2 separate regions of the Homo sapiens genome follow, and region 1 is linked to region 2. Evidence: fine-mapped expression QTL. Tissue or cell type: whole blood. Region 2 holds a variant in brackets; the other region holds the start of a gene. All regions are shown on one strand. Distances are from middle to middle.

The links. PIP is the estimated chance that this variant, and not a neighbour inherited with it, causes the effect.
Region 1: LYRM1 starts here. The variant in region 2 is fine-mapped to the expression of LYRM1 in whole blood (INTERVAL, PIP above 0.99).

The regions. Positions count from the first base shown.
Region 1 is chr16:20,899,206-20,902,048 of GRCh38, forward strand. It overlaps LYRM1 (LYR motif containing 1), which reads left to right and starts at 1,566. Exons shown (of 4, transcript NM_001128302.3): 1 at 1,566-1,684. DCUN1D3 (defective in cullin neddylation 1 domain containing 3) reads right to left here and starts at 1,153. Exons shown (of 3, transcript NM_173475.4): 1 at 999-1,153. RefSeq lists enhancers at 713-762, 972-1,757, 1,758-2,543.
Region 2 is chr16:20,973,098-20,975,597 of GRCh38, forward strand. DNAH3 (dynein axonemal heavy chain 3) reads right to left here. Exons shown (of 62, transcript NM_001347886.2): 51 at 2,136-2,318. Among named protein-coding and RNA genes, the nearest start is that of LYRM1, 74 kb to the left of the region's middle. RefSeq lists an enhancer at 625-1,125. The variant G/GTTTT (reference allele first, on the strand shown) is at 1,482.

The DNA.
Region 1 (2,843 bases), 74 kb before region 2:
GGGTGGAGAGAAACACAGAAATCCAGAATTAGCCTAGCAAATCATTTTGGGAAGAGCTGACAACATGTAAATTCCTCACACATAAAGTATTTCGAGCAAGAGACCTTGATTCCTGGGCTATGATGCCATTCAGGATTCCTTGCAAAGGCTCTGGAATTCCAGTATTCATAAAAGAAAATGCTCATTATAATCGGAGCGTAAGAGGTACTCCCAACGTGACAGCCTGTATGAAGTATTACAAAGCTTACAGTTAAGATCTGGGATAGAGGCTGAACACCAAATTCAAAAGAGGTAACCAAGGCACTAAGTGCCATAAAGGAGGAAAGGGGAAGAAAAAAAAATCCACTATTGCCACTCAGCCACAGAGAATTAAAGTGGAAACCAGGGGTGTGCATGGGGGAGGATGAGGGGTGAGAAGTGCGGGGGGTGTGGTGGAGGAACAAACAATACATTTGTCACCCCGTCCCACTTCCTATAGAGGATACAGGCAAAGCCTCCAGCCTCATTACCTCGGACACAGATGGTTATCGTTTATAGCAAAGGTGCACAAAAAGGCCTTCAGGTCTGAGCCCCTTAATTCCAGGGCTGTTAATGATTAAAGAGAACGATGGGGGTGGGGAGGGAAATGAGGGCGGAGGGAGCTGGGAGATTCACCCACCACCTCCCCCTAGGGCTCCTACCTCACAGCGCTCACCCAGGACAGAGGACCAGAGTCTGCACCCCCTCCAGGGCAGCTCCAACCCCATATCCCCAGGCCCTGGGTTGAGGGGTGCTGGCGGTGGGGAGGCAGGGACAGTAGGTAAGTTTTCTGAGCCCTGCGGCTGACACGCCACAGGCTCCCCTCACAGCCTCTTCTTTCAGAGGTACCACTCCAGACAACGCGCTGACTTCCACTCCTCCCTTTCCACCCCCCTTTCTCGAAGGTACCCAACCCCCGCCCCTTCATCTCTCAATGCCCCCCCGCCTTTTCCTCAACTCCCCCCCTCCCCAAAACTCACAGCTGCTCCAGAGGTTCCTCCAGTCAAACCCTTTCTGGAAACGACGGCGGCCCGGCGGGTCCAAACCACCTACCATCCCCGCTCGCGTTTCCAGGCTCCCTACCCCCGCCGCCGCCGCCTCTTCTTCCACCACTGCCACCGCCTCCTCTTCATCTGCGGCCCACCGGCGGCGGCCGCCCCGAAGCCCCGCCCCCTCCATCGCCTCCTGCATCATCACTTCCGGTAACCCCGCCGGCCGCCAGCTCCAGGAGGGAGAATGGGAGAGGGGCAAGGAGGGAACGAGTGGAAGATTGCGTCACGACGCACATAAAGACGTACGAAGCCGTCGCCAAGTAAGGGCAAAGACCTAGCAACCCGGAGGGAGCTGGGCTGGACCATTTTTTTTTCTTGTTTTACGGGAATGGAGCGGGGAGGATAATGAAAGCGTAAAGGAAAAATAGGGGGAGGAGGAGCTCAGCTTATTGTTGGATGCGGCGGGAGATGGGTAGAGTCAGTCAGTCGAGACTCCCCCAGACCTGGAACTGGTGCTCCCACAGAGGTGGGCCCGGTGGTTTGGTCCGGCCTGGCCTACTGGACCAGCCTGTGCTCGGTCGGCCACGGCTCTGCTGGGCTCCTGGCGCCGCCTCCTCCCAGCCCGCCGCGGGCTGCGCGCTTCTGTGGGTGGGGGAAGGCAGGACTGACGCAGAGTGAGTGTAGGGGATGGAGGCGCCGACTCCAGGCGCGGGAGACTGGCGGGGAAGGGGTTGGCTCCCCACGGGCAGGGATGGTTTGGAGGTTGGGCTGCGGCGTTGCCGGGAGACGGGCCTGTGTGACCCCAGCTTCGCGGGGGCGGCTCGGTGTCATCGCCACCGGCCTCGGGGACCTGCCTCACGGAAGTGGCTCGCGCGTCCAAGAGGGGAGGCCTGGTGTGGGGACGCTCAGGTGCCGGCGTGGGGCCCCCTCGGAGGCTGTGAATCTTTTGGACCCCCGAATGTAAATGGGAGATGGTAGGGGCCGGTCCGGGGGCGAGAGGTGTCTGGCTGGGGAACGTTGACCCACACCAGGTCCCGTACAGGAACGGAGACTCCCTAGGACCGTGAGAGCCAGCTTCGTAATTCTCTTGCTCTTCAAACCTGAGAGTAGGGTGTTGCTCCGTTACCTTCCATTCGTGTGCAGGAGAGAGTTAAGTAAATCAATAAAGAAGGTATCAGCAAGTGAGAAATGCCCCCCAAAGACCGGATGAGGTGACAGAAGATGGGGGGAGGGCCCCTCGAAATCGGGTAAGGTCGTTCAAAGGAGGCCACGGTTTTGCGGGGATCCGAGACAATGGGTTTTCTGGGTGGAGAGAAGAGCCAATGAGAAGGACTTTTAGGTTGGAAACAGCCAGAAGGCCATGTGGCTGAAGCAAACAGAGCCAGGGCCGGAGTGCCCTGTGATGTAGTTGGGGAAGTGGCATGACTGTAGCAGCGCCTTTTAGCCCAAGGCAGGGGTTTGGCTAATGTGTACCTTAAGGGTTTTAAGAAGGGAAGTGACCTGACCTGATTTACATTTTTAAAAATCCGCTCTGCCTGCTGGATAGAGAAGGGTGGAAGTAGTTAGACCTGTTAGGAGACTGTTGCACTGTAAGACAAAGGAGAGGTGAAGATAGTGTTGAAAGGGCCGGCCGGGCGCGGTGGCTCACGCCTATAAACCCAGTACTTTGGGAGGCCTAGGCGGGCGGATCACGAGGTCAGGAGATCGAGATCATCCTGGCCAACATGGTGAAACCCCATCTCTACTAAAAATACAAAAATCAGCTGGGCGTAGTGGCACGCGCCTGTAATCTCTGCTACTCAGGAGAATCGCTTGAACCCGGGAGGTGGAGGT
Region 2 (2,500 bases):
GAGAGAATTTTCTGTTAAGTGGGGGCATAGGTTCAAGTATGTTAAGGTAAGTGCCATGAACCTTGGCTTCTAATCCCACTAACCATGCAGCTCTGGAAAGTCAATTTACCACTGAACCTCAATGCTGTCAACTCTCATATGCCCATGTCTGTCATTCTTTTTTTTTTCTTTTTGAGATAAGGTCTTGCTCTGTCACTGAGGCTGGAGTGCATTGGTGCGATCTCAACGCACTGTAACCTCTACCTCTCGGGTTCAAGAAATTCTCCCACCTCAGCCTCCTGAGTAGCTGGGATTACAAGCATGTGCCACCACACCCAGCTAATTTTTGTATTTTTAGTAGAGATAAGGTTTTGTCATGTTGGCAAGGCTGTTCTCAAACACCTGACCTCAAGTGATCTGCCCACCTTGGCCTCCTGAAGTGCTGGGATTACAGGCATGAGCCACCTTTCCCGGCCCTATCTGTCATTCTGAAGTCTCAAAGTAGTTGTAATGCTCAAATGTAACCATGTACTTCAAAGTGCTTTGTGAAATATACAACATCACATCAGTGCTAATTGAAGAAGTAGATTTTCTTCTACTACGTGAACGTAGGTCAAGCCCTTACCAGGACTATTTCCTCTCTGGCACAAGAATCACCTTCAAGCGGGTTTCCTCTAGGTTCCACATTCTGTCATCCAACAAATATTTATTCCACGCCTACAACACGCCAGGCATAATTTAGCAAAAATACAATGGAGACGAAGGAAACAGCCATGTGGATATCAAAAGGAAGGGCATTCTGTGTAGAGGGAACAGCCAGTTCTTAGGCTCTGGGGTGGGAGTGCGGCTTATGATTATTTAACAAATAGCTAGGAGACCAACATGGCCAGAGTACAGGGAATGAAGGAAAAGTGGTAAAACATGAGGTCAAAACATATTGGGTCTTTTTGTTTGTTTGTTTTTGAGACTGGGTCTTGCTCTGTCACCCAGGCTGGAGTGCAGTGGTGCGACCTGGACCCACTGTAGCCTCGACCTCCTGGGCTCAGGACCCTCCCACCTCAGTCTCCTGAGTAGCCGGGACCATAGGTGCATGCCACCACAGCTGGCTAATTTTTTTTTACATTTTTTGTAGAGATGGGGTTTGCCATGTTGCCCAGGCTGGTCTTGAACTTGGCTGGTCTTGAACTCCAGGACTCAAGCAATCCACCCACTCAGCCTCCCAAAGTACTGGGATTACAGGCATGAGCCACTGCCCCTGGCCACTTTGTTTTGTTTTGTTTTGTTTTTTAGACAACACAAGGTCTTGGTCAGCTACTCGGGAGGCTGAGGTGGGAGGATCACTTGAGTCCAAGTGTTCAAGGCTGCAGTGAGCTATGGATTGCAGTGGCACGATCCTAGTTCACTACAGCCTCAAACTCCTGGGCTCAAGCAATCCTCCCACATCAGCCTCCTGAGTAGCTGGGACTACATGGGTGTGCCACTACACCTGGCTGTTTTATAGT[G/GTTTT]TTTTTTTTTTTTTTTTTTTTTTGTAGAGACAGAATCTTGCTACGTTTCCCAGGCTGGTCTTAAACTCCGAGGCTCTGGCGATCCTCCTGCCTTTGTCTCCCAAAAATCTGGGATCACAGGTGTGAGCCACCACACCTGCCCATATGTTGGGTCTTAATGCTTCCTGGTTTCAGCGATGTTTCAGAACAACTTCCTTCATCACTTATCAGCTATGTGATGCTGGGAGAGTCGCCTACCCCTTATTATTATTATTATTTTTTTAGAGTTTCACTCTTGCCGCCCAGGCTGGAGTGCAGTGGTGCAATCTCAGCTCACTGCGACCTCTGCCTCCCAGGTTCAAGCAATTCCCCTGCCTCAGCTTCCTGAGTAGCTCGGATTACAGATGCACGCCACCACACCTGGCTAGTTTTTTTTTTTTTTTTTTTTTTTAAAGTAGAGATGAGGTTTCTTTATGTTGGTCAGGCTGGTCTTGAACTCCTAACCTCAGGTGATCCACCTCCCTTGGTCTCCCAAAGTGCTGGGATTACAGCTGTGAGCCACCATGCCCAGCCTTGCCTACCCTTTCTGAGCCTCACTTTTCTCATCCGTAAGATGGGTATAACCACGCTCATTCGGCAGCACCAGTTCCCTCCCTTTCTTCTCAGTCTTTCTACCTTGATTCCTTGGGCAATGGCAGCAGCAACATTGGCTTCTTTTTCATCTGCCTGCACCAGAAGTTTCTTTCCATCAGCTTCTCTCGTCTCCGCTTCAATTTTCACCATCATCTTGGCAGTTTCCTCGGAGGTGAGGATGAGTTGAGGTTGAAGAGCTGTCAGTTCTCTTTGCATAACCGCTACCTAGCAAGGAGAGAGGTGGGAGAAATCCAGGGTCAGCACTGAAAATGGCAAAGTAGACAAGAATTGAAATGATTCTCCAACCTATGACATAAGCAGAAAATATGTACTAATGATTTTGACATGGTCCTGGGTACAGATTCGTTTCCTAGTGATTATCTCATAGGTTTTTCAACACAGTTATT